2 linked regions of the Homo sapiens genome follow. The protein of the gene in region 1 purifies or fractionates together with the protein of each later gene. This does not show direct contact. Each region holds a gene or a part of one and is shown in the gene's direction. Other genes may lie near its edges.

Evidence for each region.
Region 2: the proteins of DOLPP1 (region 1) and HEPHL1 purify together in Homo sapiens (affinity purification with mass spectrometry; 3 studies listed by BioGRID and IntAct, with this or other methods). This does not show direct contact.

The regions. Positions count from the first base shown.
Region 1 is NC_000009.12:129,079,219-129,082,818, forward strand, and holds the start of DOLPP1 (dolichyldiphosphatase 1), read left to right. Parts: upstream 1-1,892; 5' UTR 1,893-1,913; coding exon 1,914-1,989; intron 1,990-3,600. UniProt on the Homo sapiens protein: Required for efficient N-glycosylation. Necessary for maintaining optimal levels of dolichol-linked oligosaccharides. Hydrolyzes dolichyl pyrophosphate at a very high rate and dolichyl monophosphate at a much lower rate. Does not act on phosphatidate.
Region 2 is NC_000011.10:94,101,354-94,105,127, forward strand, and holds part of HEPHL1 (ferroxidase HEPHL1 precursor), read left to right. Parts: intron 1-1,560; coding exon 1,561-1,667; intron 1,668-3,174; coding exon 3,175-3,397; intron 3,398-3,774. UniProt on the Homo sapiens protein: Is a copper-binding glycoprotein with ferroxidase activity. It oxidizes Fe(2+) to Fe(3+) without releasing radical oxygen species. May be involved in the regulation of intracellular iron content.

The DNA.
Region 1 (3,600 bases):
AGGATGTACCAGGCCCTGTCCTCATGTTGCCCAGGGTTTCTCCAGTGGTGGCTGTAACCACCTGTATCAGAACCACCAGAGCACATAAGAATGCAGACACCTGGGCTCCAACTCAGACCTACTGGATCAACCCAGGCCCCATTGTGACCCAGGAATCTGTGTTTTCTACAGGCTGATCTCAGCACTCCATGAATCTGAGAGCCGCTGCTGACTGGGAGGGATAGGGAGCCGATTACAGTCCAGTGAGGTCAGGGCTGAGAAAGGACAGGAAATGCAACCGTGAGAGCCCAGTACTGGCCCCTCACTTGACTGTGGAAACCTGTAAGCCGAGGAGACACCTGAACCAGATTGGGCCGGGCAAAGTAGGGCAGGAGAGGCAGTACATCCCACGCAGCAAAACAGCACATGGTGGCCAGGGGCGGTGGCTCACACCTGTAATCCCAGCACTTTGGGAGGCCGAGGTGGGCGGATCACGAGGTCAGGAGATCAAGACCATCCTGACCAACACGGTGAAACCCCGTCTCTACGAAAAGTACGAAAATTAGCCGGGCGTGCCACTGCACTCCAGCCTGGGCAACAGAGCGAGACTCCGTCTCAAAAAAAAAAAAAAAAAATTAGCTGGGCATGGCGGCTCACGCTTGTAATCTCAGCATTTTGGGAGCCGAGGCAGGTGGATCACCTGAGGCCAGGAGTTCGAGACCAGCCTGCCCAACATGGTAAGACCCGGTCTCTACTAAAAATGCAAAAATTAGCCGGATGCGGTGGTGCGCGCCTGTAGTCACAGCTACTCGGGAGGCTGAGACAGGAGAATCACTTGGACCCAGGAGGCTGAGCAAGATCGTTCCACTGCACTCCAGCCTGGGCCTCAGAGCAAGACCCTGTCTCAAAAAACAAACAAACAGACAAAAACAGCACATGCTAGCGGCAGGAGACAAGAGGCTGAGCCCTCCCAGCCCACCTTACCTGCACTGTAATCCAATCCAGCCAGAGACAGAGTCGGGTAGGAGAGGTGAAGGCGGGTGGGAAGGTGTGGCTGTTCACGCAGGAATGTCTTGGGAAAACTGAGGGGTAGGTGGAAAACCGACTTCTTGTTTGAAATGCTCCCAAGACGCCTCATTAAGTAGCATAGACGTGACTGAATCAATAAATCTTTATTAAATGAATGAAAGGAGGAAGGAGTCCTTAACTGTAGCTAAGCTTCCACTCTTAAGTATCAATTAAGCTTCTCTGTTCAGTCCAGCGTTTAGGGCGCCTACTGCGCGCCCCGCCCCACACACTTTTGACAAAAAGGTCGCCTGCTCTGTGTGACTTGCCCTTTCGCCGGCCAGTATGGGGCAGAGGGAAATAAGCCCCCTCTGCTCTCTGGTCTCAGTTTACTCGTAACTGAAAGTGGGTCGGTTCAAACCCCCTGGAGCTGAGGTTGCCTCTCCTCTTCGAGCACGCGCTATCGGACGCGCAGGTCCCCAAGACCGCGGATCGGCAGGGGGTACCAGGGAAGCCTTCATTCAGGGCGCAGGTCCCAGCCGAACCAAAGCTCCCACCAAAGTTCAACACGCCCCCAAAGCCAGCGCCTGATTGGCCCGCCCTGCCCACAAGCTGAGGCAGCCTCACCTTCTGATTGGCTGTTATGCTCCCTGTTCGGTGCTGGAACCCTCCCCTTCTCTGATTGGCCAGATGCCTACCTGCGCTCGCCCCAGATTGGGCGCCAGCTGGGGCGGCTCGTTGGCTCCCAGGGGCCCCGCTCTCTGATTCGCCGCTCGGGCCAGCCCCCACGGCCTGCACGCTGAATGGCTGCGCCGCTACCTATATTGGCCTCCGATTGGGTGCACGGCGCCTCCCCGGCGTGATAGGTCAGGACCACCGCCCCCCTGGCTCCCCATTGGCTGCTCGAAGAAGCCCGGTCTCCGGGTAAGATGGCAGCGGACGGACAGTGCTCGCTCCCCGCTTCATGGCGGCCGGTGACCCTCACCCACGTCGAATATCCTGCAGGTAAAAGGCGGTCCCGGCTCCAAGGACGCCTTCCCAGGGACGGCCTCTCAGTCCCGGGCGCTCCGGCCTGCTCGAGCCCGCGGAGGGGGCGCCGGGGGACCGGGGTGGGAACTGTCAAATAGTGAACCACGGAGGGGCTCGGCCGGCGCGCGCGCCGCGCAGGCGCAGTGGTGCGAGGATGAGCTGGGCGAAATTGTGAGGCGCTCGCTCGCGCACTCTGCGGCTGCGCGGCCAGGGCGCTCCCCCGGGTCCCGGGGCGCCGGTGGGCTGAAATGGGTTGAGGATCTGTGTGAGGCGAGAAAAGATCCCTGGCCTGGACCTTGGCCCTTCTTCCCCGCCCTCCCCTGTCCCAGAGAGGCCGCACTCCTGTTCCAGCGTGCAGGGAGTGTCTTGTTTCCTTCGAACAGTGCTTTGGGCTGCTTGTAAGAGAAAGAGCTCCCCGTTGCTGGGAGTGTGCAAGCCGAAGCCAGGCTTTTGAGTACTTGTGGTGCCACGCCCTGAGCAGGGCACGATTCCACAACAGAGAGGACCCGATGAGGGGGCGGGCAGCCTCCGGGAACTTGACTTCTGTTGCTTCCCATCAGACACACCTCTCGAAGTGCAGGGCTTTCCAGTTGAGAGGTCCATTAGCGGCGTTCTGGAGGCTGTCTAGTAAGAGTGGCGCAGAGCCTGGGCGTGGGGGTCAGACCCATCTGGGCTCCAGTTGAGGCTGAGGCCTTGTGCAGGTGCCTGCCTCTGCTTAAGTTAATTCATCTCTAAAGTGGGACTGATTACAGTGCTTACCTTCTGGTGATGGTATGAGCATCAAATAGCAGGAGGCACAAGAAGGGCTGAGTACAGTGCCCGGCATGCAGTAAGCGTTCAGTAAATACCTGCAGTTAATGTTATCCCACCTTGCAAGACCCTCCCTGGGTAAGATGGTTGAGTGCCAGGGAAGGCTGGAGCCCCTCATTGAGCCCTGGTTGCCTGGGAAGGGCCTGCTCATGCTGCTGTCTTGCGAGATGTGAGAACCTGGGTCCGCTGAGGGCACCAGGACTGAATGCCAAAGAACGTTGACGCTGGTGTTCTGGGTTGTACTGGGGGTGGTATGGCCCTGCCAGGTCCTGGGCCCTGCCTGCCTGCCTGTCTACCATTCATTCATCCATTCATTCATTCAGTCAATATCCACTGAACACTTCTGAGTGCTAGGCCCTGGGCTAGCTCTGGTTTTTAGAATGCTTAACAGGCCTGAAATATCCCTGCATTCCTGCACTATGAAAACCAGCTGCTTTATAAGAGGAAAGCCAAAGCCTGGAGGTGGGGAAAGACTTGCTAAGGCCTCTGCACCTTCACAGCTTCCCCTCCTGGCCTCAGAGTAGCTTCTTGGAGTGCTCACAATCCAACAAGCCAGAAGGAACCTGGCAGGCAGTTGTGTGCAGCATGATACAGGCTGTGATGGACCTGGCTGAGCCTGGAGCATCTGGTGAGGTCTAGTCCCCTATTAATGCTTCCATGGTTCCCTGCACTTCTCCGTCACACCCCTCTTCACACCGTCACTTGCTTACTTCATTCATTCAACAGTTTTTGAGCCCAGTTAAGAGCCAGGCCCTGTGCTGGGCTTGGGGGATAGAG
Region 2 (3,774 bases), on another chromosome or scaffold:
CTGCTCCATCTTGAAGAAGAACATTGGCGTCAACTCTTTTCTGGTCTCAGAGGTGTCTTAAAGAGCTCATCTTAATGTCAATGTGTTTCAGCCATCATCTAGTCACTCTGGTATGAGATCATCATTCATCCAATGACCAAATGTTTAGGAATTTCTAGGGTTCCATTAGAAACCTCCATTAGGGACCCCATTGTCAACATCCCCCACCAGAGTAGTACATTTGTTGTAATTGATGAACCTACATTGATACATCATTATCCCCTAAAGCCCATAATTTACATTAGGGTTCAGTATTGGTGTGTATACTCTAAGGGTTTTGACAAATGCACAACAACATGTATCCACCATTTTAGTCCTATAAAGAATAGTTTCACTGCCCTAAAAATTCTCCGTGCTCTGGTGTTTATTTTTTCCTCTTCCTTAACCCCTGGCAACCACTGATCTTTTTACTGTCTCCATAGCTGTTCTTACAGTAGCTCCCCCTTATCACGGTTTTGCTTTCCTTAGTTTTAGTTACCTGAATCAATCTTGGTCTGAAAATATTAAGAAATTTTGAGATAACTTCAATTAGAGACAATAAAAAGATATTTTGAGAGTGAGAGTCTACATTCACATAGCTTTTATTATAGTGTACTGTTATAATTGTCATATTTTATTATTAGTAATTATTGTCAATCTCTTACTGTGCCTAATTTATAAATTAATTATAGGTATGTCTGTATAGGAAAACACATAGTATATATAGGTATGGCACTGTCTGTGGTTTCAAGCATCCCCTGGGGGTCTTGGAATGTATCTCTCCTGGACAAAGGGGGACTACTGTAGTAAACATAAAAATTAACACATTAACTGCCTTCAAAATGAAGCATTATCCTGTGTATTTAATGACATTATTTCATTTAATCCTCACAACAATTAGAAAACTATGATGACCAACCCACTTTACAGATAAGGATACTAAAGGTTAGTGACATTAGGTAGCTGGTCAAATGTGGGATAAATAGGAAGTCATAGGGTTGAGATTTGGAACTAGGTCTCTCTGATTCTGGTTCTCACCAGATCTCACCTGCCCACTTGAGAAGCTTTTAAAAAACACTGGCACCAGAGTCCTAGACCCTAGACTCTCTGATTTCACTGTCTGGGGTGAGGCCTGAGCAGCAAGGGCTTACAAAGCTCCCTGGTGACTCCCATAAGAGGCCAAAGCAGAGGTCCTTGATGACAAAGATGTGCTCAAGGACAGCTCTTGGGAAGGAGATAAAACATTTAAGGAGGAAAAACAGTGAGGTATAAAATGTTTTTATTTCCTGAATACACACCAGTTGACAATAGAAAAATGCAAACTAGAGGGAAGGCTGGAGCCTGAAATGACAAATCTGCCATTTCATTTTGAAATAGTAGAAATCAAGATGGGAGTTTAATAAGAACATTTGTAATGAATGAGTAATTCTCTCCAGCAATAAACATTAATGAAAATATATAAAGACCTGCTTATATTTCTTCAGATAAATCATCTGAAACACAGATAATTCTAATAAATTTTTTCCATTTCATTTATTACAGGAGAAGTAAAAACTTATAGATGGAATATCCCTAAAAGATCCGGTCCAGGGCCTTCTGATCCCAATTGTATTCCATGGGTTTACTATTCAACAGTAAACTTTGTGAAGGTAAGGTGGAGAAAGCAACCAAAAGGCTTAAAATAATTTGGATGAAAGTTGACTACTTGGGTCATCACAATTTGGGTTGGTATATGTGAAAGCGTATAATGATTTAGAGCAAGGGTCTCATACTATGGCCCATTTACGAAATCTAGACATGCTGGACGTTTACATTGTCAATGGTTGACTTGAGTAGCTGCAACAGAGACTATATGGCCCACAAAGTCAAAAATATTTACTATCTGGTGATTTTTTTTTTCCCAAAAAAAAAAAAAAAAAAAAAAAGTTTGGTGACCCTTGACTTAAAGTATGGGGAATAAAAACAAAATCCCAATGTTTCAATTACCAAATTTAGAACTTAAAAAGATAAAAGGTTTGAAGCAAAAGAGGATATGTAAATATACAACAATAAAATAAATATAACTTAGAGTACAATTTATGTATGGTTTTGGATGTGTGAAATCTGTTTATTTTAAATGCATTATTATCAGGGCTACTAGGGCTCAGGAGAAGAAAGTTCACTCTAAACATAGTAACTGAAACTACAAAATTGTTTGAATGATTAATGATCTAACTTTGAAATAAAAGGCAAAGATTCAACATTGAATTTGAGCCAGGTATGTGTATGTAAAACAACCACAGTCTTTAATTACATGCCATAAACCAAAGTCCAATCTAAAGTCGTTATTTGATGTAAAATGTAAGCATTGCCTATTAAAGAAAAAAAGGGAGGGATTATCATAACCTTCCTCTTAGGTATTAGATGGCTTGTATTAATGTCTTTGAGTTATACTGGACAGTTCTAGAGTTCAGGAGATAGAAATACAAGGCACTTGAATAAATAAACTTACATATGAGAATTATGGGAAAATCCAAATTTATTTATGCATCACAACAAATACTTATTGAGCACTTGTGATGTGCAAATGACCCCACCAAATACTATGAGAGATGCAGATACTCTTGTCTTAAAGAAACTTATAACTTTGTGGGAAAATAATATGTCCACACTTGTAACTGTAATAGAGCTCTGAATCTGGTGAATTCTATAGGAGTGGCAGGCTAACTAAAGTACTATAGAAGGTTTTGGAGGGAGAGTCTAGGAAGAAAGAGCATTATGAGCACAGCTGAAAATAGGGAAGTAGAGGGAGTGTTTGGGACATGTTGAGAGTCCCATTTGGCTATCATATGGGGTCCAGTAGTAAATCAAGGGGTAGCCTAAGTCAGAAAATTTCATTAGGGGAGCACATGGAGGGCTCACAGACCTGCAAGGGTTTGTATTTAATTCTGTAGGCCACGGAAAATCACTGAAGACTTCTAGATACGGGAGTATAAAGATTACTGTGATGGTGGTCAACAGGATGGGCTGGAGGTGGGGTGAATCAGAGCTGAGAGAAGAATCAATTTCTAGTCCAGGGTGAGGTATTATGACCCTACACTAGAATGGTGGCAGGTGGAATGAAATATTATTAAATTACTTAATGGCTCTTTTAACTCAGTTTATTTTTTCTTCCAGGATACGTATAGTGGTTTGATGGGTCCTCTGATTACATGCCGAAAAGGAGTCTTGAATGAAAAGGGAAGAAGAAGTGACGTTGATTATGAATTTGCTCTCTTGTTTTTGGTATTTAATGAGAATGAATCCTGGTATCTGGATGACAATATTAAGAAGTATCTCAACAAAGATCCACGAGATTTTAAGCGCACTGATGATTTTGAGGAAAGCAACAGAATGCATGGTATATCCAAAGTTTAAAAAGAAGCCTATGTTGAGATAAGCTCATAGGAATTCCTGTAAATGTAGGAGGCTCCCAGCATCCTTCTCTGAGCCTTTCCTCCTTCCCAGGGGCACCTGGACTGAAGAAAGTCCTCTAATGCTTTCCTTCAGACTGAACCAGCCTAGCCACTGATTGGCTGGCAGCAAAGTCATTGAGGCTTTGTACTAACTTGTAGGGACATGTATTTCTGAATCCTGGGATCTCTAAGCTCTAAGACTGTAAAGTAATTCTTTAAAAACAAATCATCATTTATTGTCATATTTTTATAAGAATATGCCATAACTTCTATTTGTTTAAATTTAAGGGCCAGGTTTAATTGTCTCTGGGATATGAAACAC